4 linked regions of the Homo sapiens genome follow. The protein of the gene in region 4 purifies or fractionates together with the protein of the main gene of each other region. This does not show direct contact. Each region holds a gene or a part of one and is shown on either strand. Other genes may lie near its edges.

Region 1 (8,427 bases), on a different chromosome or scaffold from region 4:
GCAGAAAAGTTTGGGAGTAATGAGTTTAAAATGATAGGCATTTTCTCTTAGATAAATTTAACTTTTGGCTGGGCACAGTGGATCACACCTGTAATCCCAGCACTTTGGGAGGCTGAGGCGGGCGGATCACTTGAGGTCAAGAGTTCATGACCAGCCTGGCCAACATGGTGAAACACCCTCTCTATTAAAAATACAAAAATTAATGATGTGGTGGCGCATACCCTGTAATCCCAGCCACTTGGGAGACTGCGGCAGGAGAATCGCTTGAACCCAGGAGGCAGAGGGTGCAGTGAGCCGAGATCACACCACTGTACTCCAGCCTGGGCGACAGAGTGATATCTTATCTAAAAAAAAAAAAAAAAAAAAAAAAAGAAACTTTACTATTTAAACCCTTTCAATGAATGCTTTTTCATTCATTAACATGTGTATGGAAGCCATAGCGCTAAAGCCAAAGATAAAGCTCCTTTATTGTTTTTATTCTCCTCAATAAAGCGCATTTGTGACAGGATTAGACTCATGGACAAACTTGTGGAAGCAGCAGTGGTCAAAATCAAAAGGTCAGCCAAGTAGCAAGGACTAGATAGGTTTATTGTCCCTATGTCCCTAGGAAGGCAAGGGGCTCAGCCCAGCAAGATAAGGCTAGGCATTATTGTGGCCACAGTGTTCTCAGAGGAGAATGTCTGCTCATTGCCGTGGCTCCAGGACCATCCTGTGCATAGAGATGACAACATAGCCCAGGGTTGGGCCAAACGGGAGGGCACTGTCTTGGTTTGCCACTGAGTCCCATCCCAGCTGAGCCAGGGAGGGCCTGAGAAGGGCGTGAATCACACATGCAGCTGTGTGGGTGGGGCTTTAAAGAACACTGCGGAACATGTGCGAATGACACTTTGGCCCAAGAAGTCTCAGGACTAAGAATAAGTAGTTGTTTAGGTTATATTTACTAAAGTTAGTTATTAAAAGTTATTCACTAAACCCAGTAATAAATCCTTTTTTTTTTTTTTTTTTTTGAGACTGAGTTTTGCCCTGTTGCCCAGCTGGAGTGCAGTGGCACGATCTTGGCTCACCACTGCAGCCTCCGCCTCCCAGTTTCAAGCGATTCTCCTGCCTCAGCCTCCTGAGTAGCTGGGATTACAGGTGTGCGCCACCACTCCCAGCTAATTTTTGTATTTTTAGTAGAGACGGGGTTTCACCATGTTGGTCAGGCTGGTCTCAAACTCCTGACCTTGTGATCCGCCTGCCTTGGCCTCCGAAAGTGCTGGGATTACAGGCTTGAGCCACCACGCCCGGCCCTTTTTTTTTTTTTAAATTATTTATTTTATTTATTTATTAATTTATTTATTTTGAGATGGAGTTTCGCTCTTGTTACCCAGGCTGGAGTGCAATGGCACGATCTCGGCTCACAGCAACCTCCGCCTCCCGGGTTCAAGCCATTCTCCTGCCTCAGCCTCCGGAGTAGCTGGGATTACAGGCATGCGCCACCACGCCCAGCTAATTTTGTATTTTTAGTAGAGACGGGGTTTCTCCATGTTGGTCAGTCTGGTCTCGAACTCCGGACCTCAGGTGATCTGCCCACCTTGGCCTCCCAAAGTGCTGGGATTATAGGTGTGAGCCATTGCGCTGGCCTTTTTTTTTTTTTTTTTTTTTTTTTTTAAAAAGCAGAGTCTCGCTCTGTCACCCAGGCTGGAGTGCAGTGGCACCATCTTGGCTCACTGTAGCCTCCACCTCCTGGGTTCAAGCGATTCTCCTGCCTCAGCCTCCTGAGTAGCTGAGATTACAGGCGCCTGCCACCACAACCAGATAATTTTTGTATTTTTAGTAGAGATGGGGTTTCGCCATGTTGGCCAGGCTGGTCCCAAACTCCTGACCTCAGGTGATCTGCCCACCTTGGCCTCCCAAAGTGTTGGGATTACAGGTTACAGGTGTGAGCCACTGCGCCCAGCCCCAGTAGCAAATCCTTTACTATTTGGCCACTCTAAAAATATTTTCAATTAAAATCAAGTAGCAAATGGATGTCTGTTATCAACGTTATTGTTCTTTGTGGTGTTAGTAAGTGTGGGAAAAACAGGAAAATGAAATTACAAAGATTGGAAAAGAACAGATAAAAAACTGCAATAGGATTGTATTTCTAGAAAATCCAAGAGATTTTAAAAATAGTATTAGAATTTTTAAAATAATTTGATAAGATGGCTGGATATTATAAAATATATAAAAATTCCTATCTTTCGTCTATATTGGCAGTGAGTACTTAGAAATGGAAGGAGGAGAAATATTTCATTCAGAGTAGTGCAAAACCTGCAAAATACATAGAGTAAATTTATTTATTTATTTATTTTTTGAGACAGGGTCTCACTCTGTCACCCAGGCTGGAGTACAGTGGTGTGATCATGGCCCACTGCATCAGCCTTGATCTCCTGAGTTCAGGGAATCCTCCCACCTCAGCCTCCCTACTAGCTGGGACCACAGGCGTGTAGCACCATGCCTGGCTAATTTTCTTATTTTTTTGTAGAGACATGGTCTTGCTATGTTGCCCAGGCTGGTCTTAAACTCCTGGGCTCAAGCACCCCTTCCGCCTCGGCCTCCCAAAGAGCTGGGATTACAGGTGTGAGCCACCACACCCAGGCAGAAGTAAATTTAATGAGAAAGGGGCAGGACCTTTATGGAGAAGTCTAGAAGGTCTTACTGAAGGTTATAAAGCAAGTTCTGAACAAATGGAAAGATATGTCGTGTTCTAACAATTAACATACTAATTTCATTTCCAATTAGAATTGCATTAAAGTTTTTTTTTAATTGGATGAAATCTCAGCTTTGTTTAGTAGAATAAATGCTGAAGAATAGCCAAAGAAGTATTAAAAAAAAAACAGTGATACTTGGGAGGGCATTTGCCTCACCACATATCAGAAGATCCTATAACACTACTTTTAGCCAATCAATATGGTGTTGCTATAGGACCAAACAAATAGATTAGTGGACCAGAACACAGAATCCAGAAAAAGATCTCAGGATATAAGGCGATTTAATATATGACCTCAGGTGCTGTTCCAGTGGAAAAAAATCTATTATTTATTTGTAATTAATTGTATGTTACTTAAATAATTCTCAAGAGAATTAGACACTGAAGGCAGATAGGACAAGAGTATGTCATTAAGAAGGTTGGGAAGTGTTGAGATTGGACAAAGACCTATTCCTCTTTTTTTTGAGAGGGTTTCACCCTTGTCGCCCAGGCTTGAGAGCATTGGCGTGATCTTGGCTCACTGCAACCTCCATCTCCTGAGTTCAAGTGATTCTTCTGCCTCAGCCTCCCAAGTAGCTGGGATTACAGGCGCCGGCCACCATGCCCAGCTAATTTTTGTATTTTTAGTAGAGATGAGGTTTTACCATGTTGGCCAGGGTGGTCTCAAACTTCTGATCTCAGGTGATCCACCCGCCTCAGCCTCCCAAAGTGCTGGGATTACAGGCGTGAGCCACTGCACCTGGCCTCCTTTTTTTTTTAATTGACAGATGAAATTGTATGTAGTTGTGTATGACATGATGTTTTGAAGTATATATATGTTGTGGAATGACTAAATCTAGCTAATTAGCATAGCATGGTCTCACATAATTAGGATTTCTGTGGTTTGAACGCTTTATATCTCTTAGCATTTTTCAGGAATATAATACATTGTTATGAACCATAATCACCATGTTGTACAAGAGATGGATCTTGCAAAGGGAGGACTCTATTATTGAATGAGTAGTGCTGGGGTAGCCAGCTATGTGGAAGAAGGTAAAATTGGACCCCTTGCCTAGATGTAAAAAATAAATTCCAGGTGAATTCAGTACTTAAACACAAAAGGTAAAAATAGAAAACTCTTGTAAGGAAATATAGGAGGACATTCTAGGAATGGAGAAGACCCAATTAAGACTGGAAACTGGCTGGGCATGGTGGCTCAAGCCTGTAATCCCAGCACTCTGGGAGGCCAAGGTGGGTGGATCACCTGAGGTCTGGAGTTCAAGACCAGCCTGGCCAACATGGCAAAACCCTGTCTCTACTAAAAATACAAAAATTAGCCGGGCATGGTGATGCACACCTGTAATCCCAGCTACTCAAGAGCCTGAGGCAGGAGAATCGCTCCAACCCAGGAGGCAGAGGTTGCAGTGAGCCAAGATCGCACCACTGCACTCTAGCCTGGGCAACAGAGTGAGACTCTGTCTAAAAAAAAAAAAAAAAAGTATATGTTCAAGGATGCTTATTGCAAGCATTGTTTATAGTGGTAAAAAACCAAAAGCCAAAAAAATACTCATTAACAGAGGCTGGGTGAATGAATCTTGCAGTAAATATTATGCAGCTACAAAAAAATAATGCATCAGTGCTATGCAAGTTAACTTTCATGAGTAGTTGATTGAAACAAGCAAAATAAGGAGAAGTGTCAGTTTTGTAAAACAAATGGACTCAATAAAAAATATCATAGAGGTATACATGTGATTGAGTTATAACTGATTGTAATGATTATGTGAGCATGGAGGAAATATACAGATGACATAATGGTTTGTTGAATGTTAAAATGGATTTCTTGGGGATGGAAGAATGGAGTGGGATGAAAAGAGGGGCCTGGGTGCAGTGACTCACGCCTGTAATCCCAGCACTTTGGGAGGCGGAGGAGGGCAGATCACTTGAGGTCAGGAGTTCGAGACCACCCTGGCCAACATGGTGAAACCCCCTCTCTACTAAAAATACAAAAATTAGCCGGGCATCGTGGCAGGTGCCTGTAATCCCGGCTACTCAGGAGGCTGAGGCAGGGGAATTGCTTGAATCTGGGAGGTGGAGGTTGCAGTGAGCCAAGATCACGCCATCGCACTCCAGCCTGGGTGACAGAGCAAGACTCCATCTCAAAGAAAAAAAAAAGAGGGCAGCTATGTAGAATGTATTAATAATAATAATAAAAAAGACTATTGATACTGTCTACTGCCCTCCCTGGTGGATATGAAACAGTCATATGTAAAGTTACGTGTGTGTATATGTATCAAGAAATAGCATAAAACAGGGAGATGTTTCCAAGAGCAGCAGTGTATGATGGTCACTCTGACAGGGCTGAACTGTTTTAAGTACAGCAGGGGGTGAGTGTAGAAGAGCTCTCAGATGGGGACTGTTCCCCAGAGTGAAGTCAGGTTCTGAAGGAGGCTGGAGGTTTCAGCAGAGGGCAAGGTCTCCTGGCAGCCTCATGGCTGGATAGGGAAGTTGGGGAAAGGCGAGTCTCAGCCTTTGGATGGCATCCAAGGCTGGAATCCAGGAAATAGAGATGAGGGTCCTAGGGAGAAAGGAGCCTGGGCAGCTGAATCTAGTCACGGTGCTTCAATCGAGGAATTGCCTGGAGGCTCAACGGTGCCCTATGGCAAAGGCTCACTATGTTCTCCTCGCCCAAGATCAGAACCAGGTCCCCGGGGATTGCCCACAGGTAGGTGGAGATGACAGGTAGGTAGAACTGGAGTAAGGGCTGAGAACAGACAGTGCCGGAATATATGTTTTTGTGCTCTGTCACAACATTGTCCAGAGAATATAACTGCAGGGGGAAGTATTTTGCAAACCGGACCTGAAGGCTCTTGAGTTTCTGTTGGTGAACAGTTTGCTGAAACAGTGACTTTTCTTTCCTCTCCCTCCCTTCCCTGTTCCCCAGCTGGATGTGTGGAATCTGGTGAAAATGTAATGAATACCACTTATGTTTTCTCCAGGAAGAATCTTAAAAGGTATGCAGTCAAGGAAATGTTTGAAATGTTTACATTTTTTTTAGACGGAGTTTCGCTCTTGTTGCCCAGGCTGGAGTGCAATGGTGCGATCTCTGCTCACTGCAACCTCTGCCTCCCGGGTTCAAGTGATTCTCCTGCCTCAGCCTCTTGAGTAGGTGGGATTACAGGTGCCCGCCACCACTCCTAGTTAATTTTTGTATTTTTAGTAGAGATGGGGTTGCACCATGTTGGCCAGGTTGGTTTCAAACTGCTGACCTCAAGTGGTCCGCTTGCCTCGGCCTCCCAAAGTGCTGGGAATACAGGCATGAGTCATTGCACCCGGCTTGTATTTTTTTTTTTTTTTTTTTTTTAGTAGAGATGGGGTTTCGTCATGTTGGCCAGGCTGGTCTTGAACTCCTGACCTCAGGTGATCCGCCTGCCTCCTCCTCCCAAAGTGCTGGGTTTATAGGTGTGAGCCACCGCGCCCTGCCAAAATGTTTACCTTTTATTTTTGCTTTTGCTTAGTCACAGTGCCTTTTCCTAACACTGCAATTAATCCATTAGGCCCATCGCTCATCTTCCATGTCCTGGAAAAGCCACTCTTGCTGTTCGCTGCTGTCCGGTCTACTTTGAACTGAGGCCAGTGGTGGAAACAGGTATCCTCAGAGCCTCAGGGGTGTGTTATGTTTTCTCTCCGAAACAGGTCACCAGAGTGGGGTGGAGATTTGGATTCTGTCTTATGGGGAAAGGTGGGTATCTGGGTTTGGTTCAGTTCAGTTATTTTAAAAATATTTTATTTTTACATTTAAATCTATTTATTTATTTATTTTGAGACCAGGTTATCAGCCTGGTTAATTTTTGTATTTTTGGTAGCGACAGCGTTTCACCATGTTGCCAAGGCTGGTCTTGAACTCCTGGACTCAAGTGATCCACCTGCCTCGGCCTCCCAAAATGCTGGGATTACAGGTGTGAGCCCCTGTGCCCGGCCTGGTTTAGTTATTTTTAAAAGCTGGAGCAAAGACTGGGGTTATCAAAATACATGTCAGTTTTTTTTTTTTTTTCTTTCTTCAGGATATATTTTCTTGCTTAAGGCACTTTAAAAGGAATGGACGTACTCCTTTTGTTTGTCTATGTCTCTCATTATCAATTTTCTTTTTCTTTTTTTTTTTTTTGAGATGGGGTCTTGCTCTGTCGCCCAGGCTGGAGTGCAGTGGTGCAATCTTGGCTCACTGCAAACCCTGCCTCCCAGGTTCAAGGGATTCTCCCTCCTATCCTCCAGAGTAGCTGGGATTACAGGCGCATGCCACCACACCCAGCTAATTTTTGTATTTTTAGTAGAGATGGGATTTTGCCATGTTGGCCAGGCTGGTCTCGAACTCCTGACCTCAGGTGATCCACCCACCTTGGCCTCCCAAAGTACTGGGATTATAGGCGTGAGCCATCATGCCCAGCCATTTTCTTTGTTTTCTTGTGCTTGGGGTTCATTGAACTTCGTAGATCTATCCGTTTATAGTTTTTATTACATTTGGGAAGTTTCAGCCATTTTTCCTTCAAATGTTATTTCTGTTATTCCCTTCTCTTATTCAAATACTCCCATTACACATGTATTATATTAGGTCCTTTGAAATTAGTTCCTGGCCTTTGATACTACTTACTTTTTTTGTTTTTTTCTTCTTCCAGTGTTTGATTTTGGAAGTCTCTATAGCTGTGTTTTGAGTTTGCTAACCCTTTCTTCTGCATGCTCTGCCCTTGGTCCCATCCAGTGTGTTTTTCTTTGTTGTGGTTCTCATCTCTAGAGATTCACTTTGGGTTTTCCTTATATATTCTGTGCCTCTCCATGCTCCATTTTTCCTCTTGCTGCTTTCTTTTTTTTTTTTTTCTTGCTCTGTTGCCCAGGCTGGGGTGCAGTGGTATAATCTCGGCTCGTTGCAGCCTTCGTCTCCCAGGTTCAAGTGAATCTCCCACCTCAGCCTCCCAAGTAGCCAGGATTACAGGTGTGCGCCACCACACCCAGCTACTTTTTTTATTTTTAGTAGAGGCAGGGTTTTGCCATGTTGGCCAGTCTGGTTTCGAACTCCTGACCTCAGGTGATCTGCCCGCCTCAGTTTCCTCTTGCTTCTTAAGCATATAGAGTGCAGTTATAATAGCTCTTTTAATGTCCTTGTATACAGGTTGGTTTTGATTTTTTTCTCCTCATTGTGGGTCATATCTTCCTGTTTTTGTTTGCCTGGTACTTTTTGATTAGATACTAGACACTGACTTTTACTTTAGTGGATGCTGGATGTATTTTTATTCTTATAAATATTCTTTTTTTTTTTTTTTGTGACAGAGTCTTCCTCTGCCACTAAGGCTGGAGTACAGTGGTGCAATCTGAGCTCACTGCAACCTCCGCCTCCTGGGTTCAAGCGATTCTCCTGTCTCAGCCTCCTGAGTAGTTGGTACTACAGGCACACACCCCCACGCCTGGCTAATTTTTGTATTTTTGATAGAGACGGGGTTTTGCCATGTTGCTTAGGCAGGTCTCAAACTCCTGAGCTCAAGTGATCCACCCGGCTCGGCCTCCCAAAGTGCTGGGATTCTAGGCGTGAGCCATTGCACCTGGTCAGAAGCCTTGTTTCTGTGGTTTTACTTTGTCTCTGTCCCCAACCCCCAGGTGTGGAGCTGATGAGTCTGCCCTACCGCCTGGTGTTTGCTGTGGCCTCGGAGGATTCCGTGCTTCTGTATGAC
Region 2 (4,698 bases), on a different chromosome or scaffold from region 4:
CTTCATTACTTTCTAAAATATATTTTTTTAATCTTAATGATAGAATACACCAGGCCCTGAGGGTTTTGGATAAGAATCTATAGTCTTACACAAAGCCAGGTAGTTATAAGAAGAAATCAGTCCAGTGAACCTCCCTACCCCATCAAAAAAAGAAAAAAATATTTGTGATGCATTTACACTGAAAAAGTCAAATTATAAGGTACTTCTGTAATTCTAGAAGTCTGGGTTTATATGAGATATGTCTTTCTCAAAAAGTGAAGATGATGATTATTGCTGGCATGTATGGGAGAAATTGATTTAATCTTTCAACATCTCATAAGTAATATCAGAGAGATAAAATCAATAATGTAAACAGTATTATCTAGCATGTTAACCGTATGGTTAAATGCAACAGATTTGACTATTTCCTATATTAAGATACTCTTAATGCCTATAACTCAATAAATATTAAAAATGAATGTTACATCTATAATAAATAAATGGGAAAATTAGCTTTACTATACAAAGAAAAAGGAATCTCAAAAATCAATCTAAACCATTAGTCTGAGCAACTAATAAGTCAGTAAAGACTATCAGTAAATCAATACCATTCAAGTAAAATTTTATAAACTAATAGTTCAGCATTCTGCAAAACAAAATTGACATCACTTTTTTGAAGCTAATCTGATCATCCTGATTAAATATGGCACGTTACTTCATTACCCTCTTCCTAACACACTACATTACTGAAAGAGACCATGTTTTAAAGAATATATTGCCAATTCTTAACTCTATAATAATGATAAAAAATAGTTACTTCAAAAATCACTTGTTTAAAAAGATACACATTTGAGACTCAAGGATCCCTGCATAGCCATAATAATGTCACAAACATTAAGATATAAAATATGAAACTGCATTTTTATTTAATAAGATCCAATAAACCTTAAGGTTTAATGCCAGCTTGAAAAATAATGCATTTAAGATATCACAAGAACAAAAACAAATTTCAATTAAAATTATACTAGATTTTTGTTTCTGAAGCTCACAAATAATAAATGTGTACATATCAGAATCTAAGCCTCTTTTTCTTTTTTTTTTATTGAGACAGAGTCTCTCTGCTGCTCAGGCTGGAGTGCAGTGGCTCAATCTCAGCTCACTGCAACCTCTGTCTCCTAGGTTCAAGCGATTCTCCTGCCTCAGCCTCCCGAGTAGCTGGCATTACAGGAATGCAATGCCACGCCCAGCTAATTTTTTGTATTTTTAGTAGCACACAGGGTTTCACCATGTTGGTCAGGCTGGTCTCGAACTCCTGACCTTAGGTGATCCGCCCGCTTCAGCCTCCCAAAGTGCTGGGATTACAGGACTGAGCCACCACGCTCAGCCTAAGCCTCTTTTTCACTACCCTCTAAGCGATCTACCACAGTGATGAGGGGCTAAAGAGCAGTGCAATTTGATTACAATAATGGAAATTAGATTTATTAATTAACAATTTTTCCTTAGCATGTTGGTTCCATAATTATTAAGAGTATGGACTTACTTAGAAATGAGCTTTCATTTTAAGAATTTCATCTTTGACCTTCTCTATTAGTCTGAGCAGTATGACACTATACGTATTTTATTTAACTAACCTACCTTGAGCTATTACTTTTTAAAAGGCTATATACATGAATGTGTATTGTCAACTGTAAAGCCCCACAGTATTTAATTATATCATGATGTCTTTGAGGTTGAACGCATATAGAAATGTCAACTAGTTTGGAGATACTGAGTTGGACTTTAGAAAAGAGGTAGGTCTTTGGACGAGCACGGTGGCTCACGCCTGTAATCCCAGTACTTTGGAGGGCCAAGGCAGGCAGGTCACGGGGTCAAGAGATCGAGACCATCCTGGCCAACATGGTGAAACCCCATCTCTACTAAAAATACAAAAATTAGCCAGGCATAGTGGCACGCGCCTGTAGTCCTAGCTACTCAGGGGGCTGAGGCAGGAGAATCACTTGAACCCAGGAGACGGAGGTTGCAGTGAGCAGAGATGGCGCCACTGCACTCCAGCCTGGCAACAGAGCAAGACTCTGTCTCAAAAAAAAAAAAAAAAAAAAAAAAGGAGGTAGGGCTTTAGGGCTTTAAGATAGATATTTGGCAATCATCCTAAACTTAGACGTTTATTAACTGCAATTATTAGAACAGATAAAATTTCTAAGGAGTGACCAATTGCCCCAATAACATGGAATACATTGCTTTCCATCTAGCATGCACTGAATATGTATTAAATGACTTAACATTTTAAAAACGGAAAATTAATCTCCTGTATTACTATGGTTATATGTGATTAAGATACTTCTGGTTTTGAAAATGAGTACATTAAATGTTTATTAGTTATTTTGTAGAACGTATGAACCCATGAAACTCTGCAGGACGCAGTCCCAACTGCCTAGTCCACTGCCTCTAGACATGTTTGGTTTTTACTTACCATAAGAGAACTGGTTATTACTAACCATTCAAACCGATGAAAATACCCAGAAGTCTCCTTCAGGGTATCTTCAAATGTGTCAACTTCTAATTCAATTGTCTTTTTCCTCCCACAACCAGCATTCATTTTCTTATACAACTGAATAATTTTCTACACCAATTCCTACAATTGAAACAGCACCGTCTTCTACCATTTCCCTTTGCAAGATATATACTAAATTTCAGCTAACATAAAAGTTACAGACTTTTATGAAATAGCCTTGATTCTTAACCACATTTATATCATCATTTATTTAGGTAAAACATTCCAAATTCCAAGTAATTACTTCAAAATGGAATTGTCACACAAAGCCCATTTGTTATTTGACTTGTTCAGTTTTTATGTTTTGTTTAACCTATTTCATAGAGTACTGCTCATGGGACCAGGAAGGTTATTAGTGAGCTAGGATTAAACTTCCATCCACAGATGAACAGCCAAGGTAATGTGGAAAAAATGCTAGATTTCAAATCATGACAGGGTCAAAGTAGATGGAGGTGGGAGAGATAGTACGGAAGTATGAAGTAGAACCAATGCAATAGCCAACTATGCAAAATCAGACACAGAGTGCTACATGACAGACAGAAAGAAAAATGGGTAGTAAAAAGATATTTATATTTTCAGGCATCAAGTTCAAAGGGAGCAAGAGTATGAGGATATGGGATTTGCAGAAACAACTTGTCAAGGGAAATGTTTTGGTCCCTCTCTGTCCCCTATCACTTGGAACTTGAAGAAAGTACATTAAATTGAAAAGCCTAGTTCTGTGCTAGTTCTGTGGCAAGTCTTGTGCTATTCACTATCCTCTCCTACTTCTTTTCAATTACTTATTGTTAGCTCTCAACTTATAGGATTTAGTCTGTTTTTCTCTACTTTTACCCTGTCCTGTATCATGACCCTTTAAGGCCATAATCCTTTATCTTACTGATTTTCTATTCTTTTGCACTAAAAATAGTCTTGCTTCCTATAAACCAAATGCAATATTGTACGCTTCTAAGATGGAGGGACCTCCTGTGAAGTTACAGTGAACTAACATTCAAGTTAGTTATGTTCAGGAACATAACCGAAGACAATAGCTTTCTTCCCAGCCTTCCTGCCTCCATCACTATTAAATTTTCCTCTGAAGCTTTCAAACCTGAACACATGATTTTTTTGAGACTTTTTTCTTAAATTATACTTTAAGTTCTGGGATACATGTGCAGAAAGTGCAGATTTGTTACATAGGTATACACACGCCATGGTGTTTTGCTGCACCCATCAACCCGTCATCTACATACCCGTCATCTACATACCCATCATCTACATAAGTATTTCTCCTAATGCTATCCCTTCCCTAACCCCCAACCCCGACAGGCCCTGGTGTGTGATGTTCCCCTCGCTGTGTCCATGTGAACACGATTTTTAAAAATTCATTGGTTTATTCTGAGTATTCATCATCATACAGTTGTGAAAATAGTTACTATACATAAAGGCTAAAAGAATCGATGGAAATTGACTGTAAATAACATGGATTTCTAAACAGGTTCATTAGAATTTTTCTTTTGATAGAATTCATAGTGTCCAGAGAATATTAGGTTGTAGTATGTGCTCAAGCACAAAAGTATTCTTCAGGTATAGATTAAAAACATAATTAAAGCATTTTCATGTGAGCACTTTAAATATGTTTTTAATTTGTACTTAAGGAATATTTTAAATGAATTACAAACATCTGGCTACTATCTCTTTACAAAACAAATGTTCTGCATCTCAGAGAATTACAAAAACTGGGTTTATGGGCCCAGATACTGTTTTCAATGCAAAGATGGGTAAAATTAGTACTTACCTTTGATACTAAATCAATATTAAATCTCCTGCCTTCTTTAATAATTTGTGAGTAAGTAATTCTGTTTTTCTTTGGTTGCTCTGTGGTATCTTCTGCTATAGGCACATTTTCACTCATGTCTTCTGCTGAAGTTGATGGCACACAAGTTTTATCATCACAATGGTTTTCTTTTTCCCCTGTCACTTCAGCACCATTTACTTCTAGCGCATTCTCTGGATCGCTGCTTGGAGTTTGTTCTGTGAGCATTTCACAGCTCATAGTGCTTAATGACTCATCCTCCGTAGGCAGGAAGGCAGAATCTGCAGCTTCTGTGGAGTTTGCAGATGTCACAAGAGCATGATTTTTCTGCAGTGCACCAGCTTCTTCGACATCTTCATGCAAATCCTGACTAATA
Region 3 (6,670 bases), about 46 Mb from region 4:
ATATAAATTCTTACTTATAGTGCTAAGAATGTATATGTCTTTTTTTATTAAAGAACTGGGTTTTTGTTTTTATTTTTTTGAGATTGGGTCACACTATGTTGCTCAGGTTGGTCTTGAACTTCTAGGCTCAAGTGATCCTCCTGCCTCAGCCTCCTGAGTAGCTGGGATTACAGTTGCACACCACCATGCCTGGCTCCAAACTGATGATATTTTTAAAAAATTAAGTGAGAGGAGATAGGGACAAGATAGAACCAACCCTCACCCAACAATTAGAGAATATATATTCTGCCCAAGCACAGATAGAAAAATTTATAACTTGACCATTGTGACAGGCTGAAAAGTGGCTCCCAAAAGGTATGTATGTCCTAATCCCTGGAACTTGTGAATGCACCCTCTGTGCCAAAAAGTAAAAGAAAAAAGGAAAGCAAAGGTATTCATAGACGTGATTAAGGATCTTAAGATGGGGAGGTTATCCTGGATCCTAGTGTGCCCTAAATGCAATCACATATATTCTTAAAAGAGAGGGGCATAGGAGGAGAAGGTAATGTGACTGAGGAGGCAGAGATCGGAATGATGGGGCCACAAACCAAAGGATGCTGGCAGCCATCAGATTAAGGAATGGATTCTCCCCAAGAGCCTATGGAGGGAAGGTGGTCCTGCTGACATTGTGATGTCAGCCCAGTGATACTACTTTCAGAACTCCAGAACTGAGACAATACATTTTTGTAGTTTTAAGCCATCAAATATGTTATTATTTTTTAGGGAACAAATACAAGTTTCAATAAATTTCAGAGTTAGTTTCACTTAGAATTCTTTCTGACCAGGAGGCAAGAGTCAGAAACCAGTTAAAACAAGAAGAAAAAAAAAGCAAAAAAGAAAAATAAATTCTGACATATTTGGACATTAACAAACACTTCTAAATAATACATGGACAAAAGAAAAACCATAATAGAAAAATATAAAAATACTTAGAAGTGAACAAAACTAAAATCCTTCAAATTAAACCTATAAGATACACTAAAAGCAGTGCTTTGCTTGAAATTTAAAAGCTTACATTAGAAAATAAGAAAGCTGTCCAGGCACGGTGGCTCATGCCTGTAATCCCAGCACTTTGGGAGGCCGAGTGGGTAGATCACCTAAAGTCAGGAGTTCGAGACCAGCCTGGCCAGCATGATGAAACCCTGTCTCTACTAAAAATACAAAAATTAGCCAGGCGTATGGCTATTGCCAGTAATCCTAGCTACTGGGGAGGCTGAGGCAGGAGAATTGCCTGAACCAGGGAGGCAGAGGTTGCAGTGAGCTGAGATCATGCCACTGCACTCTAGCCTGGGCAACCGAGCAAGACTCCATCTCAAAAAAAAGAAAGATTAGGCCGGGCGCAGTGGCTCACGCCTGTAATCCCAGCACTTTGGGAGGCTGAGGCAGGCAGATCACGAGGTCAGGAGTTTGAGACCAGCCTGGCCAATACGGTGAAACCCCATCTCTACTAAAAAATACAAAAATGAGCTAGGCGTGGTAGCACCCTCCTGTAATCCCAGCTACTTGGGAGGCTGAGGGAGGATAATCGCTGGAACCCAGGAGGCGGAGGTTGCAGTGAGCCAAGATTGTGCCACTGCACTCCAGCCTGGGCAACAGAGCAAGACTCCATCTCAAAAAAAAAAAAAAAGAAAGAAAGAAATATTAGCAATAAGCTAACATGTCCAACTTAAGAAGTTAGAAGAAAGACAATAAATCAAAGAAAGAGCAAAAAAAAAGAAAGTAAAGAGCAAAAATTAATAAAATCAAATACAGAAGTTATAATAGAGGGGGCCAACAAAGCCAAAAGTTTTTTTTTTTTTAAAAGACACAAGGCATAAAAATGATATGAAGAATGAAAAAGAAAATATTATGACTACAAGATATATTAAAACCTAGGTAAATAACTTATAAAAATCAAAAAGTCCTAAAGCTGTTACCAAAACTAAATTGGTTACTAAAAATCTTCTCACAAAGAAAATGCTACGCCAAAATTGTTTTACAGGCAAGTTTTACCAAATGACCAAGGAAAGATCATACCACTCTTATATAAACTTCTCTAAAAAACTAAAAAAGGAACATTAACCTAACTAATTTAGTAAACCAGTATATCACTAATAAAAAAACAAAATAAGAACAGTATGAGAGAAGAAAATTATAAGCCAGTATCATTCACGAACATAGATGCAAAAATCGTAAAATATTAGCAAATGGAATCCAGAGGGGAATAAAAAATAATGAGTCATAACCAAACCGAGTTTATTTCATGAATGCACATCTATATTGTTGAGAGATTTGTGCCAAAGTATTTAAGGGTAAATAATATATCTATAATTTTCCTTGAAATGGTTCAGAGGGGGAAAAAAGAGGGAGAAATGAAGCAGATATAGCAAAATGTTAACAACTGTTGCACATATGTATCGAGAGGTATAGGAATGTTCATTGTCTAAACAGCAAAAAAACTTGGAAAAAATCATAAAGATAATTAACTATGGTTAGACAAAATACCAGAGATGTTTGATATGTAATATTGAGTGAAAAAGCAAGCTGCAGAGACTACGTACAGAATGATACCATATTTATAAAACTCAGAACTATGCAATACTAAAAGCGACATTGCTGAGATTGATATGTAACATATACGCTGAAACTACTTTTTAAAAAGGAAGGAAATGATGAACACAAAACCCATAATAGTTCCTCCTGGAACTGTGTCGAGGAGGCAGAGGAGTGGGTAGGGAAAGAGCACAGACTGGTAAAGTTTTGCTTCTTAAATTAGGGAGGAGCTCCCTGGTATTCATTTCCCCACTGTGCTTTACAATTTGCATATGTTATATGTACATATCAAATATTACATGATAAATATGTAAAGTATATATTTTTCTTACGACCTTGTAATACAGATATAATGAACCTATTTTATTGTCAAAAAGCAATCAGTACTCATTCAATACCTTCTGTGTGTCCAGGTTCTTCTAAGGAACTATTCTTTTTGTGAGGAACTTTCTATGGAAGCTGGTTGGCCCACAGCTTTTGCAGATGATCTGCTGCCCTGAGTACACTCTAATGACCAAGACCACAAGTGGGCCCCTAACTCATCTAGGGTACGTACTGTATCGTATATGCATTTTTTTAATTCTTAAGATTTCCTCAAAAGTCCTGGACGCTCAGAAGGTATTAATAAATGCCACCATACGATAGCCAAGTTTTCTTTCTCTTGGGAATCTGAACTGAGAGGTGCAGAGTTAGCCAGGCAGCCAGGAGCAGGAAATGCAGTTGGAATGAGGCATACACTGGGCAGCTGAGGAAGAACAGGAAAAAGTGACACACAAGCTGAAACAGTGAGGATACAGAGGGTATGAGGTGGAGCAGACAGAGTAAAAGTTAAGAACAGGCCAGTTAGGATCACAAGCATACACAGAAAGCAATAGCAATGCCACCAAGGTATCCACGGAGTCCTTGAGAGAGACTGAAGACACCTGCTAGTCACAGGGCTGCTGTTTCTAAGAGGCCCAGCTCTATTGGTATTCCTAATCTTGGATGCCTTATAAGGTCCTTTCTCACTGGCCTCCATGTATCCTTAAAGTAACCCTTCCACCACCCTCCGCCAATTCACTCTTATTTGAGCTACCTTTAGGGAGGATCTATCCCTGGCAACCGGGTATATGTTACATGGAAAATAAGTCTAGTTCCTCATTAGACTTATCCTACAGTGGCTGGGCATGGTGAATCATGCCTGTAATCCCAGCACTTTGGGAGGCCTACATGGCGGATCACTTGAGGTCAGGAGTTCACGACCAGCCTGGCCAACATGGTGAAATCCTGTCTCTACTAAAAATACAAAAACTAGCCAGGTGTGGTGGCAGGTGCCTGTAACCCTAGCTACTGGCCAACATGGTGAAACCCTGTCTCTACTAAAAATACAAAAATTAGCCAGGTGTGGTGGCAGGTGCCTGTAACCCCAGCTGCTCAGGAGACTGAGGCAGGAGAATTGCTTGAACCCAGGAGGCGGAGGTTGCAGTGAGCTGAGATCACACCATTGCACTACAGCCTGAGTGACAGAGCGAGACTCTGTCTCAAAAAAACAAAAAAAGATTTATCCTACAGTGTGGTTTGGGTAGACTATGCCCTTAATTAGCATGATTTCTCAGGTTCAGAATGAAAAAAAATGGGACAAGCCTTTAAAGAAATAAGAGAATTTTAGTAAGATAAATGTGGTATATCTACCTATTACTAACTTTTCTAGACCATTTTTAATTACTGCTATCTTAAGCAATGTCTGTTAACAGAGATGGGTGATAAATCATGTTTTAGGAATGAATACATAATGAATCAAGTCTCCTACTGGGTACCAACAAAAAACAACTAATAACATTACTGATCCAGTGACTCCCATAAATAATTAGTTAAACTCACCATACCAGTCTCCATGTTAGGTGGATTAAGGTAAGTATGTGGATTTCTAATGTAACCATCTTTGTATGGCTCATCTGGAAAGTGATAAGCATTAGACCTTTTGAAATAGGGTCTGTCGTGAGGCAGATTGAAAAGATCATGTAACTCCTAAAATAAATCAGAATCAACAGAAAAAGAAAAAATGTTGGTGATTTAGATTCCTAGTCAATAAATAAAGATGTTATTAAACATGGAAAATTATATATAGGTTATAAAAGTTTCCAAACACTTATGGTTTAATTCACTAACATCAAAGATGGTGAAAACTGAACTAAAACCAAGTAAGATTTATTTTCGTTTACGTCTGTATCTGGGTAGAAACTGGAAGGGAACAGAGAAAAATGAATATAAATTGTTAGAGTAAGAGAACTAATTTTTAAATAATTATTTATTACAACATAGTCTGTTAAAATACATCCAGGCTAAAGACTGGTTTTGAAATAGCCTTGTAAATGAGTAAATTATAATTAACAATAATTATATCAAAGTATTTTGCAAAATTGTGTCGAGTGCCTTACAAATATTTTATATTGTAAGTGGTAGTGATTAAACTACAGAGTAGAAGTTAGTGGTCTAAAGCCAACCAATATGGCAGGAAAACAAATACACATATATGTTTAAAATGTGTTATTTTCCCAACTATATAAAAACATGTAATAGGTATTTTAAAAAGTTTGACATGTTCTTTATCATATCTTGTACTCCAGTGGTTTTAAAAGATCAGCTCCTGTAGCTATTGCTTCTACAAACCAAGTCACCTCCACATACAGAGGGTCAGGGTATTCTCGCTCTCCCTAAGGACAGAAATTAGGAAGATGCTCCACGGTCTAATTTGATAGGTTCTAAGCGAGTCCACATATCAAAAAGATGCACTCCAAAACCAGTCATGAGTAAATCTCATTACTTTGAATGCTGGTCATGTTTTCTCCAAAATTCCTCTAATAAAGCCCAAATAACCTTACTTGTGGAGTATTACCATAAATCCTATTCAGAATTAGCATAAGTTATCATTTTCCTTCCCTAACTGTAATCTTGTCTCTTTCACAAATCGGAAAGTTATAGAAATCTGTTAATACCAGCAACTTTAGGCATGTAAGCACCATTTCTATATTTCATTATGGAAAAATATTAAAATTTCACAGAATATATGAACCACACCGAGCATTTAAAATTAAAATGTTACATATAGGTTCAACATAACATTTTGTCATTAATACTACTTAAAGTTTCATGAGAACAGAAATTAAATAATGTGTAAAATGAATAGTCTAAATTCCACACTTTTAAGTTAAATCACAAAATACCTTCCATTTAGTGGAAATATATAATTAAATACAAAATGAATGATAGTCATTATTGTTTTTTCTAAGAATAGATGAACTGGTTTTACCTTCCTATAGGCCTGCAGCTGGCCATCTGGTATTCCTGAAGGATATGAAATTGTTACAAGATTTTTTTTCCCTGGTAATAAAAAGTGCAGTGGTTCAGGGACCACAATAGATGTTCCTTTCATATATTTCAAAATACATTTTTCCATGTCAGTTAGTTGATTATGAATTGCATCAACCAGGAGTTTACGAACTCTGTGGGGGGAAATATATAAGTGTATTAACAAAAGTTATAGTGACTACAATAAAGAAAAGTACAGAGCTAATATATCCTTAGTATAGTAAAAAACTTGATTGGACCAGGTTTGCTAAAGGAAGTCTGAATTATACATTATAAAAGAAACTGTGTATTTGCTCTTTGTGGATAAAGGGAAATCCTCCAGGTTTTAGCATGCTACCCTACTTCCTCCAAATAACCATTTAATTAATAGATGGCTCTTAGGTTAATAATAAACAAGGAGAAAATCACACCTTAGGTATACCTACAGGATATACAAACATGGGTTTGGGGAAGGGCCCTCATTCAAATGTGGCAGTGGTACTATAAAAATACTTACTTTCCCCATGTTTCTTCTGGAGCAACAGATATAACTGCATCGACAGGTAAAGTCATATTAACATAATGGTGTCCTCCGCTTTCCCTTTCAATGATGGGCGTTACAGCTGCCAGGGAGGTTGACATTTCCAGCATAAGATCTATATTTACTATTTGATGCTATATAGATAAACAGTAATAGTCAACTTGTAGTGCATTAAACACTAAATATAAAGAGTAAGTAAAAAGACTTTTCAAAAATGTATTTATTATTAAG
Region 4 (8,427 bases):
CCAGACCCTGTCTCTGTCTCTCTCTCTTTTTTTTTTAACACGTTTATTTTAGGTTCAGGGGTACATGTGCAGGTTTATTGTATAGTTAAACATGTCACAGGGGTTTGGTGTACAGATTATTTTGTCACCCACATATTTTGTCACCCACATATTAAGCATAGTACCCAATAGGTATTTTTTCTGATCTTCCACCTCCCACCTTCCACCCTTCAGGAGGCTCCAGTGTGTGTTGTTCCTGTCTTTGTGTCCGTGCGGTATTTGGTTTTCTGTTCCTGCATTAGTTTGCTTAGGATAATAGCCTCCGGCTCCATGTTGCTGCAAAGGACATGATCTTGTTCTTTTTGTGGCTGCATAGTGTTACATGGTATGTATATACCACATTGTCTTTATCCTGTCTACCATTGATGGGCATTTAGGCTGATTCCATGTCTTTGCTATTGTAAATAGTGCTGTCATGAACATACATGTGTAGATGTCTTTATGACAGAATGATTTATGTTCCTTTGAGTGTATACCCAATAATGGGATTGCTGGAGCAAATGATAATTCTGTTTTTAGCTCTTTGAGGAATCACACCACTTTCCACAAGGGATGAACTAATTTACACTCCCACCAGCAGTGTATAAGTGTTGTCTTTTCTCTGCAACTTTGCCAGCATATGTTATTTTTTGACTTTTTAATAATAGCCCTTCTGACTGGTGTGAGATAGTATCTCATTGTGGTTTTGATTTACATTTCTCTCATGATTAGTGATGTTGAGCATTTTTTCATATGCTTTTTGGCCACAGATATATCTTCTTTTGAAATGTGTCTGTTCATGTCCTTTGCCCTCTTCTTAATGGGGTTGTTTCTATTAAGAACAAATCCCATCTCAAAAAAAAAAAAAAAAAACCTTCCAGCCAGCCAGATTCCAGTGACTCACACCTGTAATCCCGGCACTTTGGGAGGCCAAAGATCACTTGAGCCCAGGAATTCAAGACCAGCCTGGGCAACATAGTGAAGCCCCATCTTTACCAAAAATTTAAAAAAATCAGCCAAGTACGGTGGCATGTACCTGCAGTCCCCGCTGCTCAGGAGGTAAGGCAGGAGGATTGCTTGAGCCCAGGAGTTGGAGGCTCTAGTAAGCCATGATCACACCATTGCTCTCCAGCCTGGGCAAGAGAATGAGACCCTGTCTCTTAAAAACAAAAAAAGAGTCTCCTCACACCTCCAGTCAGCTTCCTTCTATGAACTCTTTTAGCACCTTACCTGAACCTTTAGATGATTTCTATCTCATTGCATACATACCTGTCTTACCTCCCTTACTAAGTTTTATTCAGGGCAGGATCCATGTCTGGTAATTCCATAGACTTCTTTCAGTGTCTAGTTCAGTTCTTTTTTTTTTTTTTTCTTTTGAGACAAAGTCTTGCTCTGTTGCCCAGGCTGGAGTGCAGTGGCATGGTCTCAGCTCACTGCAACCTCCGCCTTCAGGTTTCAAGCAATTCTCCTGCCTCAGCGTCCCAAGTAGCTGGGATTACAGGCGCCTGCCACCCCACCCCGCTAATTTTTTGTATTTTAGTAGAGACGGGGTTTCACCATGTTGGCCAGGCTGGTCTCAAACTCCTGACCTCGTGATCTGCCGCCTCGGCCTCCCAAAGCGCTGGGATTACAGGCGTGAGCCACCGTGTCCGGCCTAGTTCAGTTCTTAAACCACATAGTAAGTACTCAGGGAAAAGTGTTGAATATATAGAGGCAGAGAGATCAGTTGGTAGGGTACTCTGGAAATCCAGAATTGAGGTGATAAGGGAAAATAAAGGGGTGATAGAAGAGGTATTTTGAAGATAAAGCCAAAGTCTTCAGTAACTGGCTGTTGGTGATGAGAAAGAAGAGGACTAGATGAGTGAGGTTGTGAGTCTGGGTGACAGGAGGTAGGTAGTGGAGCTAAGGGGGACTACGTGGAAGATTGAATTTGGACAGGCTCTGTAACATTATGATTTAGTCATGTGTTTATTGAGATGATCCTATATTCAAATGGAAATACTGATTGGCAGCTACAAATACCGGATTGGCACACAGGAGAAATAATTATGCACATGAAGTTGAAGTTTGGAAGCACGGATAGAACAAAATGTAGCTAACATGCCTAGAGAGAATAGTAGAAATTTTGTTAAATTTTTTTATGGCATGATGAAGATGACATTCAGTGAATGCTGTGTAAATATAAAATATAAATTGGGTTACTAATTATTGTTCTGTGTTGATCTTCATTAAAAGTAAATTAATGTTTATAAGTCAAAAAATATTTTATATGAAGTCACCTTATACCCTACCTTAAAACAGAATCAAATTGATACTTTATTTCTTAAAATGTGGTATTGGTGGTTGGAGAGATACCAAACTGGTTCTCTTGATTTGATTTGATTTGCATTGAAATTCAGTGAATGAGAATATGCGCAGTTCAGGTATCCTAAGAATGCTGAAGAATCTTGTGATCCCTTAGCTCAGAAACTTTTGGGCAGTTTCTGGTCTGAAAAAGACTTTGAATTGCTGGGGTTTGGTCCTGGGGCTGGCATGGTGTAAGTAATATACATTTTCACAGACCCAAGCTTTCCTACTATCTGAAGGATCCCAGGAACCAGGTCAGAATTCCTGTTGTTTTTCTAGCCTGATTTCAGAAGCCTATGATTCTCTTCTGTCACTTCTTACGAAGACGAAGAAGGCAGCATTGGTGTGTATATTCAGAGGTGGTGAGAAGAGAATTACTTACTTCTCTGGAATCAGTGGTCAAGATCTCTTGCTTTGGAGACTGTGTGAGGACTCTAAGCAAATTAGTTTAAGCAGAAAGGGAATTTATTTTTTCATATAACTAAAAAGCCTAGAAGTAAATTTCTCTGTCTGCCAGTTCCAACTGCAGCTCTACATGCCCATTCCTAAACTATGGTAGTGACAGGGAGTGTGGGGGTGCGAACCTCTGATTGGTCAGACGTAGGTCACATGCCCTCCCTGGGAGCCAGTGGTTCATGTGAATGGAAAGCAGGGGAGGGCCGATTCCCAAGGAAAATAGGGTGCTATTAATAGAAGGGAGAATGAGGGTTAGGCTGGAGAAAACAACATGCATTCTCTACAGAATCAGGTAGTCCACGTTTAAATTCTGGCCTTAAGACTTACTCGTTTTGTGGCCTTGGGTGAATTACTTAAACCTCAGTTTCCTCATCTGAAGATTGGGTAATTATTACATAGGGTTGCATATATTAAATAAGGGCATGTAAAGGACTTAGCAGAGTTCCTGGAGTATACATGGAATGTGCTAAGCCCCAAATCAATATTAATAGTTTAAGAGTAAATGCTCATTCCTTCAGGAGAGAGATGGTAGTGGGGAAAAAAAACAGGCAGTGAAAGAATAGGGAAAGAGGATGGATAACTAAGATTACTGTTCCAAATTGTGTGTATTTTTTCCTCTAAGGTGATAACTAATGCTTTCTCTCACTGCTTGCTCTCTTCCTTATCACCATTATTATTCTGTAATTAAATCCTTTATTTAAAAAAAATTTTGACCAGGCATGGTGGCTCACGCCTGTCATCGCTTGAACCTGGGAGGCAGAGGTTGCAATGAGCTGACTTCGTGCCACTGCACTCCAGCCTGGGTGACAGAGCAAGCCTCCATCTCAAAAAAAAAAAAATTTCATATATACGTATAATTCCTTTATATAAAACTTCATGAATCTCTAGTTTAAATTCCAATATCAAGTTTTAACAAAAATGGCAACCTAGCTACTGCTAAATACTAATAGTAGATTCTTGTTGTTGATGACAGCTCTTTTTTTTTTTTTTTTTTTTGACGGAGTCTCGCTCTGTCGCCCAGGTTGGAGTGCAGTGGCACAATCTGGGCTCACTGCAAGCTCCGCCTCCCGGGTTCACGCCATTCTCCTGCCTCAGCCTGCCGAGTAGCTGGGACTACAGGTGCCTGCCACCACGCCCGGCTAACTTTTTGTATTTTTAGTAGAGATGGGGTTTCACTGTGTTAGCCAGGATGGTCTCGATCTCCTGACCTCATGATCCGCCTGCCTCGGCCTCCCAAAGTGCTGGGATTACAGGCGTGAGCCACCGCGCCCGGCCATGACAGCTCTTTTGGTAGTTTTATTATCCAAAATGAGAAATGATCTGACTTTAAATTGATTTAATACTCTTTTTGCTTGACCTAAAATGTTAAAGGTTTTAATCCAAATTTTCCATCCCTGATTAACTATTAAATTTCCTTTTCCCCTATTCTTTCAAAGAACACATTTTTATTATTTCATGTAAAAGACCATCTATATAAGAACTACATAAGAGCTTCTGTTAACAATTTAAGTTGTAAAACAACATCATAACTGGTATTAGTGACATCTCAAGAGAACTCTTTGCTTTTTGTATGTGGAGTAGAAATGTGTGTGTCTGGTGTACAGAATCAAATGGCAAATCTTTGAAATAAATTTTAGCTTTCTGGAGTCTCTCTCAACCTCTACTGATTCTGAGTGCTGCCATTTCATGTATTGGTCTGTGTTCACTTAAACCCTGTTAAAATTTTAAAATAAATAAATTTTAGCTTCCTAAGAAGACAAGTAACAAATTTTTGTGATTATTTGAAAGGAATACTGCCTTTAAAATGAAGAATTTGGGCCAGGTGCCATGGCTCATGCATGTAATCTCAGCACTTTGGGAGGCCGATCAGTTGAGCCGAGGAATTCGAGACCAGCCTGGGTAACATGGAGAAATCCCATCTCTACAAAAAACACAAAAATTAACTGGGTGTGGTGACACACTCCTGTAGTCGCAGCTACTCAGGAGGCTGAAGTGGGAGGATTACTTGAGCATGGGAGGTGGAGGTTGCAGTGAGCCAAGATTGTGCCACTGTACCCCAACCTGGCAAGAGTGAGACCCTGTCATAAAAGATAATAATAATTTCTTTTTGAGATGGAGTCTCTGTCGCCCAGGTTGGAGTGCAATGGTGCGATGTCAGCTAACCGCAACCTCTGCCTCCCAGGTTCAAGCCTATTAAAGGCGTGTGCCACCACACCTGGCTAATTTTTCTGTATTTTTAGTAGAGACGGGGTTTCACCATGTTGGCCAGGCTGGTCTTGAACTCCTGACCTCAAGTGATCCACCCACCTCGGCCTCCCAAAGTGCTGTGATGACAGGTGTGAGCCACCACCCCTGGCCAAGTATATATTATGTTATCTTTATAATGTTTAAAATGGCAATAAGATTGCTGTGAGCACATATTAGCCATTTTTCCTAAGATATTTAAGTATTAAATTGGGAAAAATTTCTCTGAAAATATTTCCTAATTTAACATTTACCAGATGAAAGCGTCTCACTTCCTTGGGTCCAAAAGTATCAGTTTCTCTTCTTTTTTAAACATCATGAACCATTCCACTCATAGCTAAGCCTCAAGAGTTTTCTAGGCTTTGCTTTTCGCCTAGTGTCTGTCTGTCTGTCTCCTTCAAAGTTTTCTCTAGCCTTTTATGGTCAACAGTTTTTAATCAGTTGTCCTGTCGTGTATTGGCTGGGTCTCTCACTGCTCCTTTCCTGTCTCCTTGCCTTCTCATCTCAGTGTGCAGGCCTGGAAGGCAGCAGGCAGCAGTAGCCCTAAGCCTTCCCATCATTTAGTTATTCCATGAGAGAAATTTTGAAGCTTCTTTTTAGATATTCCTTTGTAAATGCCTCATTATTAGTTACGTTTATGGCTCTACAGTAAAGTGTAGAGTTATTTCAGGCTGGGCATGATGGCTTTTGCCTATAATCCCAAAGCTTTGGAAGGCCAAGGTGGGAGGATCACTTGACCCCAGGAGTTTGGGACCAGCCTGGGCAACATAGTGTGACCACCCCCCCACTGTCTCTACAAAAAGTAAAAACTTAGCTGGGTCTGGTGACACGCGCCTGTGGTCCCAGGTACTCAGGAGGCTGAGGCAGGAAGATTGAGCCTGGTAGGTGGAGGCTGCAATGATCCATGATTGTGCCACTGCATTCCAGCCTGGAGGGGCTGAGTGAGACCCCGTCTCAAAAAATAAAAATAAAAAAGGGGTAATTTCATACCTCTGTGTTCTGGAAGACTTGATATGATTAGAAAGCATAAAATTTTGAACGGGATTGATGGGAAGAGGAATACTGTTTTTTTTTTTTTTTTTTTTTTTTTTATACTTTAAGTTCTAGGGTATTCAATGTGCAGGTTTGTTACATATGTATACATGTGCCATGTTGGTGTGCTGCACCCATTAACTCATCATTTACATTAGGTATTTCTTCTAATGCTATCCCTCCCTTCCCCTAACCCCATGACAGGCCCTGGTGTGTGATGTTCTCCACCCTGTGTCCAAGTGTTCTCATTGTTCAATTCCCACCTATGGGTGAGAACATGCGGTGTTTGGTTTTCTGTCCTTGTGATAGTTTGCTGAGAATGATGGTTTCCAGCTTCATCCGTGTCGATACAAAGGACATGAACTCATCCTTTTTTATGGCTGCATAGTATTCCATGGTGTATATGTGCCACATTTTCTTAATACAGTCTATCATTGTTGGACATTTGGGTTGGTTCCAAGTCTTTGCTGTTGTGAATAGTGCTGTAATAAACATACGTGCGCATGTGTCTTTATAGTCTCATGATTTATAATCCTTTGGGTATATACCCAGTAATGAGATCGCTGGGTCAAATGGTATTTCTAGTTCTAGATCCTTGAGGAATCGCCACACTGTCTTCCACAATGGTTGAAGTAGTTTACAGTCCCACCAACAGTGTAAAAGTGTTCCTATTTCTCCACATCCTCTCCAGCACCTGTTGTTTCCTGACTTTTTAGTGATCGCCATTCTAACTGGTGTGAGATGGTATCTCATTGTGGTTTTGATTTGCATTTCTCTGATGGCCAGTGATGATGAGCATTTTTTCATGTGTCTGTTGGCTGCATAAATGTCTTCTTTTGAGAAGTGTCTGTTCATGTCCTTTGCTCACTTTTTGATGGGGTTGTTTGATTTTTTCTTGTAAATTTGTTTAAGTTCTTTGTAGATTCTGGATATTAGCCCTTTGTCAGATGGGTAGATTGCAAAAATTTTCTCTCATTCTGTAGGTTGCCTGTTCACTCTGATGGTAGTTTGTTTTGCTGTGCAGAAGCTCTTTAGTTTAATTAGATTCCATTTGTCTATTTTGGCTTTTGTTGCCATTGCTTTTGGTGTTTTAGACATGGAGTCCTTGCCCATGCCTATGTCCTGAATGGTATTGCCTACGTTTTCTTCTAGCGTTTTTATGGTTTTAGGTCTAACATTTAAGTCTTTAATCCATCTTGAATTAATTTTTGTATAAGGTGTAAGGAAGGGATCCAGTTTCAGCTTTCTACATATGGCTGGCCAGTTTTCCCAGCACCATTTATTAAATAGGGAATGGGAAGAGGAATGTTGTTTAGTCAGTCTCATCTAAAAACAAAGGGTTTTCTTAGGATTAAACTTCTTCTTCTTCTTTTTTTTTTTTTTTTGTTTTTTTGGAGACAAGGTCTCACTCTGTTGCCCAGGCTGGAGTGCAGTGGCACGATTATGGCTCACTGCAGCCTTGATCTCCTGGGCTTAAGCGATCCTCCCACCTCAGCCTCCCAAGTAACTGGAAGCACAGGTGCATGCCACCACTCCCAGCTCACTTTTTTTTTTTTAAGAGACGAGGTCTCACTGGTAGGAACAAAGTAGAGACAAGGTCTCACTGGTAGGAACAAAGTAGAGACAAGGTCTCACTGTGTTGCCCAAGCTGGTAGAGACAAGGTCTCTTTTGGTAGAGACAGGGTCTCACTGTGCTGTCCAAGCTGGTTTCAAACTCCTGAGCTCAAGTAATCCTCTCACCTCAGGCTCCCTAAGTGCTGGGATTACAGGTGTGAGTCATTGCACCCGGCCTGGGGTTAACATTTATCATTACCGCTTACATTTGTGGAGGACATCCACAGTTCTTTGAGGGCGGGTCTAAATTCTGCGTAATCATCTTTTTTTAATTTTGTTTTTATAAATGACATGCATGTTTGTTAAGGAAAATAGAAAAGTAGAAATAAAGGGAGAAATTACCTTGGAGACAACCATTGCTAATATTTTGGTATATTTCCTTTTCGTGTGCTTTTTATTTTTTATCTTGTGAATATAATTTGCTTAAAACATTATAAGTCATTTTTCATTGATGAAGTGATGCTTGAACATCTGAGTTACAGAAAATGTCATTAGAAGAGAAAAAAATCAGCTCTAGTTCCCTTGGATAGCTTTTATATAGGTCATCCAATTTATTACCAAAATATCTTTCTAAATGCTAAAGATAGAATTTCAAGGGTCTTTTCTTTTCTTTTTTCTTTTTTTTTTTTGAGACATAGTCTTGTTCTGTCACCCAGGCTGGAGTGCAGTGGCATGATCTCAGCTCACTGCAACCTCTGCCTCCTGGGTTCAAGCGAT

What was found.
Region 1: the proteins of RAB33B (region 4) and CHAF1B purify together in Homo sapiens (affinity purification with mass spectrometry; one large-scale study listed by BioGRID and IntAct). This does not show direct contact.
Region 2: the proteins of RAB33B (region 4) and CHM purify together in Homo sapiens (affinity purification with mass spectrometry; one large-scale study listed by BioGRID and IntAct). This does not show direct contact.
Region 3: the proteins of RAB33B (region 4) and UFSP2 purify together in Homo sapiens (affinity purification with mass spectrometry; one large-scale study listed by BioGRID and IntAct). This does not show direct contact.

Annotation. Positions count from the first base shown.
Region 1 is NC_000021.9:36,403,110-36,411,536, forward strand, and holds part of CHAF1B (chromatin assembly factor 1 subunit B), read left to right. Parts: intron 1-5,651; coding exon 5,652-5,721; intron 5,722-6,264; coding exon 6,265-6,356; intron 6,357-8,353; coding exon 8,354-8,427. UniProt on the Homo sapiens protein: Acts as a component of the histone chaperone complex chromatin assembly factor 1 (CAF-1), which assembles histone octamers onto DNA during replication and repair.
Region 2 is NC_000023.11:85,959,361-85,964,058, forward strand, and holds part of CHM (rab proteins geranylgeranyltransferase component A 1), read right to left. Parts: intron 4,693-4,698; coding exon 4,305-4,692; intron 1-4,304. UniProt on the Homo sapiens protein: Substrate-binding subunit of the Rab geranylgeranyltransferase (GGTase) complex.
Region 3 is NC_000004.12:185,409,295-185,415,964, forward strand, and holds part of UFSP2 (ufm1-specific protease 2), read right to left. Parts: intron 6,574-6,670; coding exon 6,416-6,573; intron 6,054-6,415; coding exon 5,861-6,053; intron 4,579-5,860; coding exon 4,432-4,578; intron 3,120-4,431; exon of another isoform or gene 1-3,119. UniProt on the Homo sapiens protein: Thiol-dependent isopeptidase that specifically cleaves UFM1, a ubiquitin-like modifier protein, from conjugated proteins, such as CD274/PD-L1, CYB5R3, DDRGK1, MRE11, RPL26/uL24, TRIP4 and RPL26/uL24.
Region 4 is NC_000004.12:139,458,258-139,466,684, forward strand, and holds part of RAB33B (ras-related protein Rab-33B), read left to right. Parts: intron 1-8,427. UniProt on the Homo sapiens protein: The small GTPases Rab are key regulators of intracellular membrane trafficking, from the formation of transport vesicles to their fusion with membranes.